2 separate regions of the Homo sapiens genome follow, and region 1 is linked to region 2. The links come from fine-mapping of genetic effects on gene expression. Tissue or cell type: skeletal muscle. Region 2 holds a variant in brackets; the other region holds the start of a gene. All regions are shown on one strand. Distances are between the middles of the regions.

The links. PIP is the estimated chance that this variant, and not a neighbour inherited with it, causes the effect. A credible set is the group of variants that fine-mapping cannot tell apart.
Region 1: EI24 starts here. The variant in region 2 is the best candidate, but not a certain one, in a credible set for the expression of EI24 in skeletal muscle (FUSION, PIP 0.58).

The regions. Positions count from the first base shown.
Region 1 is chr11:125,565,534-125,572,917 of GRCh38, reverse strand. It overlaps EI24 (EI24 autophagy associated transmembrane protein), which reads right to left and starts at 3,441. Exons shown (of 11, transcript NM_004879.5): 1 at 3,345-3,441; 2 at 349-460. The coding sequence starts at 390. It overlaps STT3A-AS1 (STT3A antisense RNA 1), which reads left to right. Exons shown (of 4, transcript NR_132372.1): 3 at 2,476-2,628; 4 at 4,800-4,810. RefSeq lists enhancers at 2,724-2,773, 3,276-3,777 and a silencer at 3,214-3,773.
Region 2 is chr11:125,677,850-125,685,233 of GRCh38, reverse strand. It overlaps ACRV1 (acrosomal vesicle protein 1), which reads left to right and starts at 4,387. Exons shown (of 4, transcript NM_001612.6): 1 at 4,387-4,505; 2 at 6,937-7,384. The coding sequence starts at 4,454. It overlaps LOC105369551 (a long non-coding RNA gene), which reads right to left and starts at 1,915. Exons shown (of 2, transcript XR_007062934.1): 1 at 1,105-1,915. It also overlaps a transcript of CHEK1 not described here. The variant A/TA (reference allele first, on the strand shown) is at 4,171.

The DNA.
Region 1 (7,384 bases), 110 kb after region 2:
GACATACAGGAACTCTCTGTACTACCTTATAACTTTTCTGTAAATCTAAACACATTCCAAAATAAAAAGTTAAAAAAAAAAAAAAAAAAAGCTCTGAAGCCAAGATGATTAGGGTCCCAATACTGGAGACATCCACCGAAGAGGTCTTCCAAGCACCTGCAAGACTGTCTGCAAGATGTAGAACAATACCTATTTCTTGAGTAGTGTGGTCTAGAATAACAACCTTTATGTAAAGAACCCAAGAAATATGATAAAAGTTCCAAAAACCCTAAAGGATTTCCTAGATGGTTCCTTCAGCAAAAAAAAAAAAGGCCGAGAGATGAATTCCTATAAACAAGATGTACTCACTCTGGCAAGGTCCTGGAGAAAGGTTTTGACACTGTCAGCCATCTCTTCACCACCAAACTATCAACTACACACAGGAGAGAGAAGTGTCCCCAAATCTCTCATCATGAAGGATCTGGAAACAGATGGAACATAATGGAGGCAAATATTTATTTTAAAGATAAGTTACTTCATGCACATTTCCACATGATGACCTCACATACTTGTAGCTCTAGTAAGATAGCAGTAGATTCTAGCACTAATAGAGTGAATCAAGTGAAGCTATTCCTGTACAGCTGAAACCTAAAATCCCTATTTTTTTTCTAAAACACTCACCACCCTTTCATTTTTACAAGGGGTTTTACATTTTACACCCTCTCATTTTTACATTTTACATTTTTACAATGTGCTCTTGACCAGTAACCTCCTCTGAGCCTCAATGCCCCTAACTATCCCTCCTACACATTCTAAGCACTTTTGAGGGTTTGGAGATGGAAGATAATTACATTTCAATATCTTCTTAAGCAATTTTTATGTTTGCTGGATACCTTCAAATACTTGAATGAAAATACAAGAGCAAGATAAAAGTTCTTACAAAAATTACTAAATACATGCTTCAGTCATACAGAGCCCTCGGGCACAGTAAAGTTTAAGGTATGACATGAAATTGCGTACCAAAACCTCCAAATAGGTCTTTTTTATTTTATTTTATTTTTTGAGACAGAGTCTCGCTCTTGTTGCCCAGGCTGGAGTGCAACACTGGGCTCGGCTCACTGCAACCTCCACCTCCCAGGTTCAAGTGATTCTCTTGCCTCAGCCTCCCGAGTAGCTGAGATTACAGGAACCCGCCACCACGCCCAGCTAATTTTGTGTATTTTTAGTAGAGATGGGGTTTCGCCATGTTGGCCAGGCTGATCTCAAACTCCTGATCTCAGGTGATCCATCCATCTCAGCCTCCCAAAGTGCTAGGATTACAGGCATGAGCCACCACGCCCGGCTGGTCTTTTCTGTTTTCTAACTTTAAATATATACAGATACAATTTTAATAAACATGCAATAAATAGTGGATTTTAAACTAGGCCTCAAAAAAGTTCATATGTATAAACAGTCTTTAAAACAGTAAGGCTTTCCCATTTTATTTCTCAGGTGAATGGGATATCTAGTTTCAAAAATTAAGAACTTGAGAGTTCATGTGAGAAATACTTGTAATTAATATACTATTCTCTCATTTAATCTGTGGTGACTTCTAAGATGAATAGAAAACCCACTTTCAGGCATTTTTTAAGAACCTGATATTCTAAAGTTCTCAACACTCACTCAATCAAGTTGCAGTATTCTCAGTTTAAGAGGTATGACCATAATACAAAGACAGAATTTCACAAGCAGCTTGTACAAACCTTAAATTTCAAAATATAAGCACACTTTCCCCGACCTTTAACCACTTCACCAAACTGCTCCTCATTGACCCAACTGGACTAATGCCATTCAGAACTGGAAGAGCAGGGGATATGGCAGTAGGAAGGCAATTTGCCCAACATTGTATATACCCTCTGCTCCTTAGGTCAAATCCTACACAGATAGGCTCACTTCGGATAGAAGTCTCTAGGGTAAGAAACTTCTGTTAATACTCCCACTGTTTCCTCCTGAAAACAAACACCTCAGAGTTCCAGTCGCGTAGGTACAGCCATACAGACATGTTCTCAGGGTTGAGGTGAGGGCAGCTGAGCTAGATAACTAGCAAAGGCTCAGTGATATGCACGACACTAGTTTGTAAAGACTCACAGATCCACTCCCGTAACCTGCCACTGGCTCATCTATAAATTAAGGGTACTAAACTTCTTCATAGGTTTCTTGCATCTAATAGGGCACAACAGCATGAAAAAAACTTAAAATTCTATATAAACACAACCCCACCAAAGTGAGCCAGCTTGGAGGTTTAAGGAAGCCCATTACTTGGCCTGGATTTCTCACAGGGAACTGACAGGGAACCTGAAACATTCTGTCTCAGTCCACAACAGCTGTGTCATTTGATCCCTGGCCAGCTAACACCTGGTTTCTGCATGTACCAAGTGGCAGGACACCTCCTAAGAGTGACCTATGAAGGATAAATCACTTCACTTTTATACTTAGATCCTAACATCCTTCCTACAGGAATATTTGGTGAATTACCCAGTCTGACAAATAGCTGAGGCATGGGGAAAAATAACCTGCCACAATTTGAGAACACACACACAGACTGAATGACACAGGGGGAATCCTACAGCTGAGCTAGACAGATGAAGATGCATCTGGCTCATTTAACAGGTGAGAGAACCCAGTCTCAGAAGTTAAATGACTTGCCCAGACTGACAGCAAATGAATGGCAGCTACAGTGAACCTCAGAACCCGGTGTTCTAACGTTACCTCGGTCGAGACTTGTTTTTACTTAAGCTTTGCAATGAAGATTTTTGTTTTAACACGAGCATCCCATGGACAAATAACCTCTCAAACCTGGAAATACAAATGCCATTAAATTCCCAACAGTCATTAGAAGCTAATAAGCATCTGCTGAGACACACTTTTATTTCTAAGTCACTAAACCCAAGTCTCGGCAAACAGGAAGCTGTCGTAGCCCACTCCAGGTACAGGGAAGGTAAACATCCTCACTTCCCACGGGGCTCCACGGGCTGCCTCTGAGTCCACGGGTCCATTCAGGCCCATCTCCCCACAGCTCCTAGGCAATTCGGCAGAAAACTGGTCTCCCTAGGCACAACTGTGCACGAGGTACGGATCACGCGAGGTGCGGATCACGCACGCTCCGGGTCACACAGGGAGCTAAAGATAGCTGCGCCGCACCTGGGGCAGCCTCGCCCGGGGATGTGCCCGGCCCCGTCCCGCTCCCTCCGGCCCCTTCCCATAAGGGGTCCTCGCCGGTAGCCCCACCAACCCACGCTCGGGCCCTGCCTGCCCTCCCGGTCCCTGCCACTCAGAATGGGCGGCGCGGCGGCCCCGAGGCCTAGCTCGGCTGAGCCCGCACCTACCCACAGCTCCGCCGCCGCGGCTCCGGCCCTGCCCCTAGCCCACCGCAGGCCAGCTCCGCCGGGGCGCTTCCAGGGCCGGGGCCGCTGCGCCCGCACTGGGCATGCCCGGGCCGCACGGGGCCGCTGGGAAGTCGGGCGAGCGCGAAGAACCAGCCGGCACCACGAGGCGGGGCCCAGAGCCGAAGGGGTGGGCCGCGCGGAGCGACGGAGACTGGGAAATGTAGTCAGTCCGGGGTCCCGCCTCGCGCTGCGTGCGGGATCGTCCGGCTCCCAACTCCGCCTGGCGGCGGAGAGGACCCCTCACCCCTCCGCGTCGCCTCCTCCCCGTCGCCTCCTCGCCGATCCCGTTCTCACAGATCTCTCCTCCTGTTCTTTGCCCTCCCCCATTGACTCCACAACGCTGCTTGCGTTTCTAAAATCCTGTGAAATTAGTAACAGGATGCCTTTAATCCCAGCATTTTGGGAGGCCAAGGCAGGCAGATCACGAGGTCAGGAGTTCAAGACCAGCCTGGCCAACATAGCGAAACCCCATCTCTACTAAAATAACAAAAATTAGCCAGGTGTGGTGGTACCTGCCTGTGGTCCCAGCTACTCAGGAGGCTGAGGCAGGAGAATTACTTGAACTCAGGGGATGAAGGTTGCAGTGAGCCGAGATCACACCACTGCACTCCTGCCTGGGCGACTGAGCAAGACTCAGTCTCAAAATAATAATAATAATAATAAATTTAAAAAATGAAATAAAATAAGTGGCTGGGCACGGTGGCTCATGCGTGTAACCTCAGCACTTTGGGAAGCTGAGGCGGGCAGATCACTTGAGGCCACCCTGGCCAAGATGGTGAAATCCCGTCTCTACTAAAAATACAAAAAATTAGCTGGGCATGGTGGCACACACCTGTGGTCCCAGCTACTTGGTCGGCTAAGGAATGAGAATCACTTCAATTCAGGAGGCAGAGGTTGCGGTGAGCCGAGATCGCACTACTGCACTTCAGCCTGGGTGACACAGCTAGACTGTCTCGAAAAATAAAATAAAATAAAACAAAACAAAACAATATAAAATAGAATAGAATAAGGAATCCATCTACTAAAGCTTAGAAATCTTGTTACAAAGAGACCTAAGTGGTTTAATGACAAACTGATTATTGTGCTATTAATTATAATAATAGCTCTTCCTCCAAGCTCTATTCTTTCTCAAGAGTGTCAATTTAGAAAAGATTTTAGAAAGAATTTAGTAGGTATGAGTTTATTCTGGCTTACTTCATGGGAGGAAATCTTTTTTTTTTTTTTTTTTTGAGACTGAGTCTGTCTTTGTCTCCCAGGCTGGAGTGCAGTGGTGCGATCTCGGCTCACTGCAAGCTCCGCCCCCTGGGTTCACGCCATTCTCCTGCCTCAGCCTCCTGAGTAGCTGGGACTACAGGCACCTGCCACCAAGCATGGCTAATTTTTTTGTATTTTTAGTAGAGACGGGGTTTCACCGTGTTAGCCAGGATGGTCTCGATCTCCTGACCTCGTGGTCCGCCCACCTACAGCCTCCCAAAGTGCTGGGATTACAGGCGTGAGCCACTGCGCCTGGCCGGGAGGAAATCTTTTAAATCTCAACATGTATAACCACATTTAAAATAAAAACCAATAATAATTAATACCTTGCATTTTTAAAGAGCTCTCACATGCTTATGTATGATTAGATGCTATTTGTGGACAAGTAGAGGATATTATTTTCCAAATTTCACAAATGAGGAAGTTTGTGGCAGAGCACTTTGAGAAGACATGACCTCCAGTTAAGCTGTGAACCTTAGTTTCTTTTTTTTTTTTTTTTTTTTTTTGAGACAGTGTCTCTCTATCTTGGCTCACTGCAAGCTCCACCTCCCGGGTTCACACCATTCTCCTGTCTCAGCCTCCCAAGTAGCTGGGACTACAGGTGCCCGCCACCACGCCCGGCTAATTTTTTGTATTTTTAGTAGAGACGGGGTTTCACCATGTTAGCCAGGATGGTCTCGATCTTCTGACCTCGTGATCCACCCGCCTTGGCCTCCCAAAGTGCTGGGATTACAGGTGTGAGCCAGCACGCCTGGCCCAAACCTTAGTTTCTTTAACACAGGCTGCTGAAATAAATGGTATATATATGAAGGTGTTTTTTAACTGTATGGATATATGATTTAGTGAAATGATAACAATACTAGATCTAGTGATAGCGACAGGAGACAGCCAAATGCCTAGGCAGTTAGTGGCGGGTCCCCATTGAAACCCCACCTCCAAGCCAAAAACAGTTTAAAGCTCGAAAGCCAAGCTACAAGTTAAGTCCTCAGACCAGATTGAGAACTTGTCTTCCTGTCTTGCATGTTTTCCTCTGATTGATCCCCACCCTTCACCTATTTTACATATACCTACCCTTTCCTGATTGGTTTTCTACACTGTTGTGCCCACCTTTGAGTGGTGCCTTTGCTTTAACCTTTCTTGCATAGCCACAAACCAATCTGCACATACTCCCCATCCTGTGCCTATAAGGACCCCTGACTTAGTCAGTAGAGTGGGAGACCGCCTGACTTTGAGGAAGACGACCTGCCCTTCCTGTCCCTTCTCCAGCTCCCCTCACTGCTGAGACTCGTTTTCATCACTAAAAAAAATTCTCTGCCCTCAACATCCTTCTTTGTTTTTTTCTTTGTTTTTTTTTTTGAGACAGAGTCTTGCTCTGTCACCCAGGCTGGAGTGCAATGGTGCAATCTCAGCTCACTGCAACCTATGCCTCCTGGGTTCAAGCAATTCTCCTGCCTCAGCCTCCTAAGTAGCTGGGATTATAGGCACCTGCCACCACGCCCAGCTAAGTTTTTGTATTTTTAGTAGAGATGGGGTTTCACCATGTTGGCCAGGCTGATCTCAAACTCCTGACCTCAGGTGATCCACCCACCTCAGGCTCTCAAAGTGTTGAGATTACTGGCGTGAGCCACCGCACCTGGCCCGCCATCCTTCAATCCTGCATGTGACCTCATTCTTCTTGGACACTGGACAAGAGCTTGGGACCCACCAAGTACAGGTACCCAGAAAGGCTGTCACACTGGTCCTTTGCCCCCACCAGTGGAAGGCAGCTGCCCCACGTGACAAGGCAAAGGGCCAACTGAGCTACTAACACACTGCTGTTTGTGGATGATGAAACTAAAGGAGCACTGTAACACCCGCTCTGAGGCTTCAGGGTCATGGGCACTTTCACCTGGGCACTGCAGTGTTCCTCTTGAGGCAACATGCCTGGTCTGGCCACAGGCCCCACACAGAGCTTGCTCCTGTGCCAGTGCCCAGAGTGGCTGGCTGGATCTTGAACTTGCTTGCTCATGTGCTCCCTCCTGCAAGTGGTTGATTGTGGTGGGCCTGGTAGACAAGGCGCCCCCTTCCATGAGTTTGTCAAAGGGGCCAAGAAAAATCCTGCATCATTAGGGGCCAGATCTCCTAGCTTCCAGCCTTGGAATCTTCTAGGAGAGAGAGATACTATGATTTATTAAGCATCTACTATACCAAGCCTTTTATATTTATTATTTCAACAACAATTTAAGTGTTGTAATGAAAAATTATCACTATTTTTTTTTGTTTTTGAGATAGAGTCTCACTCTGACACTCAGGCTGGAGTACAGTGGCATGATCATGGCTCACTGAAGCCTTGACCTCCTGGGCCTAAGCAATCCTCTTGCCTCAGCCTCCTGAGTAGCTGTTGTAGCTGATTTAAAAAAAAATTCCATGCCTTCCTATTAAGAAAAAAAAACTCCAACCAGGTTTGTCTAACGCCCGATTCCACACCCTTTCCTCTACCATATTTGTGTTCCATTATGGATCACAAAAGTCTTCTCATTTAAATTTAGGTTGTGTATTGTCATTATTAAAGTAGTGCTCCTCTTTGTTTTGCCTGTGGTTGCTAAAAGAAAAAAAGAGAGAGAGAAAGAAAATAATGAAAGTGTTGGCCAGTATGGTGGCTCATGCCTGTAATCCCAGTACTTTGGGAGGCAGAGGCGGGTGGATCACCTGAGGTCAGAAGTTTGAGACCAGCCTGAACAACATGG
Region 2 (7,384 bases):
TGTTTTGTGTTTTATTTTGTTGGTTGTTTTTGCAGAAGCAGCATTCTACATCCAGGTACCAGCTTTATGATAGTGAGAGAAGAGGAACAAGACACCATGTCTTGCCAATGCCCGTCTAGCATGCGTGGAGTGCATATACAGCTACAAGTCCTAGTGGCAGCCCACTCCTGATTCCTGGCTCACACAGTGGTGCCCTCCTGAAGCCAACAGTTCCTGTGGAAGCTGCCTGACACTCTACAGTGACTTTCCTGATTGTGATAGAGGTGGCAGCCATTAAAAAAAAAAAGAAAAAAGAATGGCAAAAACTGCAATTACTTTTGCACCAACCTAATACCTTTCTGCTGAAGGTAACTCACCAGACAAGCTCCTGTGTCCTGCAAGTGGGCCCTGACTGGTAGATATTTAAATAGTATTCACAAGTGAAATAAAATGAGTACTAGGATGACATTTTTTATTACATGATTTTATATTCTTTTTCCTACAAATAATAATTACATTATCATTTGCTCAATTAATTTTATGCTTCTGGCTAAGCTTCCCCACCTTCCAAGAGCTTCTCAGTACACATTTGTACATGGCTGTCATCGGAGCTATCAGATAATATATTATTATTTCTCTGGAGACTTCCACTTTGGGCCATTCATTCTCCTGCCCTTATCTGGGAGGGTTGTCTCCACCCCAGCTGCACAGCAATCATGCTGAGGCCTTCCTTCATGGCAATCCTGGGAATTTCTTTGTGACATCATAAAAATATCTATTTGGTCCTTGCTCCTGGTTCCTGGCACAGGGATCCTAATACCCTTGGAACTGTCTTTTTATGCTAATGAGATGATTCATGAAGTGGGCCTAGGTAGCTTCAGGGTACGGGTTGGTCATCAGAGAAACCAATCCCATGATTCAAGGGTTGAGAAGTTCAGCTCCACAAATGGCCAATGATTTAATCAATTTTGCCTATGTAATGAAGCCTCCATAAAACCCTCTAAACAGGATTCAGAGACCATCTGGGTTGATGAACACACTGATGTGCTGGGAGAATGGCCCACCCACAGAGGCCACGGAAGCTCTGCACCCAACCACCTCCCCGCCCCACCTGCCGCCACATACCTTTCCTATGTATTTCTTCCATGTGGCTGTTACTGTGCTGTGTCCTCTAGAATAATCTGGTAAATATAAGTAAAGCACTTTCCTGAGTTCTGTAAGTCCTTCTAGCAAAGCATCAAACCTGAGGAAATCTAAGGAGTAGAGGGAGAGGTTGGAAGGGATGTTTCTGAGAAGGCTTCTACTAAAAATCAGAGCACAACAAACTTATATGGGAACATATTTATCAAGTAGGGAAGAGTGCAAGAAGGGGAGGAATGTCTGCTTGAAGCCAGCAGCCTGGACTTAGGTGTGCCCCAGCTCTTCCTAAAAGAAAGCTTCCTCAACCTGGTTTCAGAGGCCAAAGCTTTCCAATACCAGACGGTGATATACCTAAGGGGACTGGAAAATGAGATCTAGGCAGGACTGGAGACAGCACTTGTGGGACCCAGTGCAACGCAAAAATGAGGCGCCTTTGTTAGAAAGTGACGAAGAATTTCCAGAGATTGAAAGCAAAGCAAGAAACCAGGGCCCTTTTGAGTGTGGGCCCATGCGCCTGCTCAGGAAGCCAGCCCTGGGTGTAGGATAGTTGTATAATAGGGAGCAGTTAAGCTCCTATCTAGGTCTTAATGCACACACATATTAAAAAGACTTCTCCATCATCCCCTGAAGCTATTTTAAATAAGGCATTGATTATCTAGGCTTTCCAAATAGGTATTTCTGCCCTCCACCCTGAAGATTTTCAGTATAGAAAGTTTCAAACATATACAAAAGTAGAGAGTACCCGCATGTACCCATCACACAGCTTCAACAATCATGCACACAGGACCAATCTTATTTTATCTTCTTTTTTTTTTTTTTGAGACAGAGTTTCTTTCTTGTTGCCCAGGCTGGAATGCAATGGCACAGTCTCAGCTCACTGAAACCTCCACCTCCCAGGTTCAAGCGATTCTCCTGCCTTCGCCTCCCAAGTAGCTGGAATTGCAGGTGCCCGCCACCATGCCCGACTAATTTTTTTGTATTTTTAGTAGAGATGGGGTTTCACCATGTTGGCCAGGCTGGTCTTGAACTCCTGACCTCAGGTGATCTGCTCGCCTCAGCCTTCCAAAGTGCTAGGATCACAGGCACAAGCCACTGTGTCCAGTCTTATTTTATCTTCTTTCCCCGTTCATTGCTACAATCCCTCATTTAGGTTATTTTGAAGCAAATTTACATAGGGAATTTTTAAAAACAATTGTTTTCAGCTGAAAGCATCAGCTCTCCAGAGCCCACTGTCTGTCTTTCTATGTTCTAAGTTAGGGTGGAATAGATAGCACCTCTTCCCTTCTACTAATTTCCACTGCTTCTATCAACAAAAGTCAGACCCAAGGCTCATAGCTGTTCTTCCAAACTCATCCTGGAGGAAAAGAATTATTGATAGCATGCTCTTTCATACCTTTCTCTACTGTAAAGGAACCTGCCTGAGGCTCAGAAATCCTAGCTTTATCCTCTAACTCAAGTCAAGTAACTTTTGATCCCTGGTGATCTTGCTGTCTTCAACTAACCCAGAACCTTAATCCAGATTCTCTTCTATAGATTCTCTTACATGATTCTCTATAAATTCTCCTCTATGAGGCAGAGAGAGGCCCCAAAAGGTAACTCATTCCTTCCTTCCTTCAGGAAAAGCTTAGGCATGCTGCTAGGTACTGGGACTACAACAATAGTCAAGACAGGGTCTCTGCATTCAAGCTTAGAGTCCAACGGGGAGTACAAACATGAAACAAATAATTATAACAGTGATAAAGTGTTAGTCCAAACTGCACCATTTCGTAACCCCCACCGACCCCCGCCATTTTGCAGACCTTGGCTAAAGTGAAGCATTCCACGGGGGTTTGGGCCCTTAGAAACAGCCTGTCCAACTGCCTCCCTGACTTTATCACACTCTGCTGGGAAAAAGTCCAAGGAACATCAGCATCACATTCTGCGGGAACAAGGGCCAAAATGCCTCATTATGGGAACATCTTCCCAGGCAGCAAGCCATACTGCCCAGACCCGTCCTGCTCATACCTACAAGTACCCCAACCTGTACGAAGCAGTGGGCACTGGCATTAAGCTAGTCCCCCACCTCTGTAGGTCTTATGCTAGACAGAAAGCCTGGATTTGATGTAGAGCCGCCACTCTCTCTTTCTTTAACCCTCACCTTCCTTTCAAAATGTAACAATAAGTACATCTATTCTAGATTTAGCATTCAGTGGTATATAAAACAAAGTTGTTCAAGAGAGCTGAGCAGAGAAGCAGCGAGAAATGGAAGCTACCAGATCTTTGCCACTCAATCCTCCATAAGTTCTAGTTTTATATCAGGTGGATGCCTCACTGCATCCATCTTCTCAGCTTGGCCACCCCCTTGCTACCAAGTTGCAGCTCAAAACGCAGCTTTCTACTGTCTCTTGATCTCTTTACTCTGCCCATATCTGTGTAAACTCTCCTCAGTTACCCATTTGAGTTTGCCACCTGTTTCCTGCTAAAACCATGTTGATAAAGGTCTGTATGAAAAGACTATTTACAGAAGTGGGCAAGGTTAAGGAAACAAACAAACAAAAAAAGAGATAAGTTTGGGCATCCAGATTTTAGTAACAGCAGGAAACCATTATCATCCCTAGGCCTAAGAGGGCAGGGGGAGAAAAACATATTACCATAGCATGGATGAGAGCTGGAGCCATGGAAGAGAGGACACCCAACAGAAGCTCTGTCATGTAGACTCAGCCAGTGTCAACTGTGGCAGGAAGGGAATAGGAAGAACAAATATTCCAGTCTCGCTCTCTTTCTCCCCATTCCTCCCTTCCCTCTTCCTCTCTCTCTTTCTCTCTTCTCCCCTCCAATCCTGTATAAACCCAATCTGAAGCCAAATCCAGCCAGCATTCAGGTGATAAAGTCAACAGAGGTCAACCTTCCAGGGTACAGATCAGAGCCAAGAAAGGCTGATTTAGAAAGCCAAACAGAAAACAATCAACAATTACATCTCATTGTCAAAAACACTTTTAAAAGACAGTAGATATCTTTTAAACTTTATTACAAAAAATATGTGCTTTTTGGTAATACTTTTTTTTTTTTTTT[A/TA]AAGATAGGGCAGATAGCCCCAACACACTACCCTGCACACAGAAAATAATCATTGGTCTTCACTAGTGAAATAAGCAGTGGGTTGCTAAGGGCCAACTTGCCTGAACAGGCTACACAAGAACCTCAGAGCCCAACCCATTGTGAAGAAACATGGGTTACTTCTGAGGTTCTAGAATTCCCAGAAGCTCTGCTTCAGCACTGGAAGCTTTTGCTCGCAGTTTGCTTCATAGCTCTGTGAAGAAGCTGTGGCCCACACTGGGGTCCCCTCTTTTCCTAAATCCAGATGAACAGGTTTCTCTTGCTAATGAGTCTTTATCTGCTTGGATCTGCCAGAGGTGAGTGTTTGATCTAGGCTTCAGGTAAATACAAAAGGGGTCTCCCTTAAGACATTTCAGGCCTTGAAGAAGGAAGACCAGTCTCTCAGTCACCCAAACCAATCTGAGTCAGAATCAAGAGCAGCTAAACAAGTCCAACTCGGAGAGCTCCTGAACCAGTTGATTTCTCTAGTCATAGCTTTACAGTCAGAGGGTCCCACTGGCTTGGCACAGTCTGGTTTCTACTTATTTTAGCCACTCAACATTTATACCTGATGCTGCATGAGATGAAAAAGTAGGCTTAGGGGTTCTGTAGAAGCCCAATGAAGGTTTGTCCCACCAATTAAATGTGAGGGATCCTTGTGTGGTTAATGTGCCAAGGAAAGATGGGAGATGGGAAGATGTAATGTGTTCAGAAAACAACCTCAGAACACGACAGAGCTATAGGCCAGAGACTTCATAAGCCTCTTCTTCATGGCTGTGTTATATCAATCAGGTTTTCTGTATCATCTCTTCTTTTGGGATCCCCCATTCATGGTGTGCTGTGTTCCCTCCTGCCTCCTACAGCAGAAAGAGGCCATGAGCTCTGAGCTTTCAGTGAAAAAACAATGTATTTTCTATAATGTCGACTGTCAGAGGTTTTGCTTTTTGCTTTGTTAGACCTTCAAAAGTTGACTCAAAAATGTAGATACACAGCCACCAGGTGATAGTATGTGCCAGTCACATGGTGACACGAGTCATAAACTATAAGATCAAGAAATTAGCATGCTTTTTATGTCTCCTTTCTATATCAGAAACATCTCTTTATCAAAACTTGTGTTAATTATTGAAAAACCAGTCAAGTAGATAGTATTTATGTAATAAGTTTAAAAAATAAAAACCTCCTAAAAGCTTTACTAAATCTTACCTTTCCTTTATCAACATATTCTCACCCTAGTCATTTAGAAAGTCACTGATTGTAAGTACTGCACTGTGCCAAGAAAATATATCTATCGCAAGATTCTTAGAGTTTTGAGTACTCTGGGGTTTTAGACTACCTCAGCCTCAAAGATCCAATAATTCCTCTCAGCTTTTGGCTAGAATTAAATAACTTGGTTGTTGTAGTCTACTTGTCTTCCTCTAGGTGGCTCAGTTTAATCAAAGAGTAATAATCAAATTATCTGTTTTGTGCTTCTGTTCACTTAAAATATACTTAAGGAATATTTGTCTGACAGTCAATGATGAGATGGATTGGCCAGACACAGTGGCTCATGCCTGTAATCCCAGCATTTTGGGAGGCTGAGGCGGGCGGATCACTTGAGGTCAGGAGTTCAAGACCAGCCTGGCCAACATGGCGAGACCCTGTCTCTACTAAAAATACAAAAATTAGCCAGGTATGGTGGCATGCACCTGTAATCCCAGCTACTCGGGAGGCAGAGGCAGGAGGATCACTTGAACCCGGGAGGCGGAGGTTGCAGTGAGCCAAGATTGTGCCACTGTACTCCAGCCTGGGCAACAGAGCGAGACTCTATCTTTGAAACAAAAAAAAAAAAAGAAAGAGACGGATTAAAGGTAGAAGAGACTGGCCAGAAAAAAATAACCATGTAAGAGTTTTGTAATTCCCAGTGTAAGGTGGGAAGAAAAGAAAAATAAAATTGAGTACTAGGCAATGGTGCACTTCACAATTTATCTTATTAAGTACTCAGGACAACTCCATGAAGTGAATGTAAATGGTATGTCACAAGGATACAATTCATATATGTGTGTGTGTCTATATATATATATATATATAATATGCCTAGACTTTTTTTTTTTTACCTTAATAGCTTATAGCAACTTTGCTCTCTGAATCCCCAACCCACATGGATTGGGGATTGAGTGTGAGAAAATACTTGACATTACCAAATACAGGCGGCTTAATCCCTTCTGATAATTTTTGTGGGCTCATACTTGTCATCCCTGTCCAAAGGTTAACTCTTCCGCCCTTAATTTAGGTTACAAATACTCAGGTATTGAAAACTACTTGCTTTCTCTCTCCCTCTTCTATCTCTACTCTTCTTGTCTTTCACCCATAGAGGAATGGGAGGGTTGGTGGCGAACTTCTGATTCTATCAGGGATGGTATCCTGACTTCCTGATGCTGACTTTGTCAGGGAGGCACATTCATTTTCCTTCAGGGGTTTTTTGTACATGGATGAGTGGATTCTCCTAAGTAGTTCTTAATATTGGGGAACTTAAGATTCTTCCCTTCAATCCCAGAGGTGGCCTCTGTTTGTTTCACTAAACACTTCTGTCCTCCATGGCCTTTTGGGATACTTAGTTGATTTTTCCCAACATCTGCAGTCTTCAGGTGCCCAATCTAGGCCCATAGGAAACCTAGGAGTCTCATAACATTAGCCTAACTCCATAGGAAGATAGTCTTTATCCCATTCTGTCAGCTTCACCAACTCTCTTCTGTTCCTTCTCCATCCCAGGAACATCAAGTCAGCCTAATGAGCTTTCTGGCTCCATAGATCATCAAACTTCAGTTCAGCAACTTCCAGGTGAGTTCTTTTCACTTGAAAACCCTTCTGATGCTGAGGCTTTATATGAGACTTCTTCAGGCCTGAACACTTTAAGTGAGCATGGTTCCAGTGAGCATGGTTCAAGCAAGCACACTGTGGCCGAGCACACTTCTGGAGAACATGCTGAGAGTGAGCATGCTTCAGGTGAGCCCGCTGCGACTGAACATGCTGAAGGTGAGCATACTGTAGGTGAGCAGCCTTCAGGAGAACAGCCTTCAGGTGAACACCTCTCCGGAGAACAGCCTTTGAGTGAGCTTGAGTCAGGTGAACAGCCTTCAGATGAACAGCCTTCAGGTGAACATGGCTCCGGTGAACAGCCTTCTGGTGAGCAGGCCTCGGGTGAACAGCCTTCAGGTGA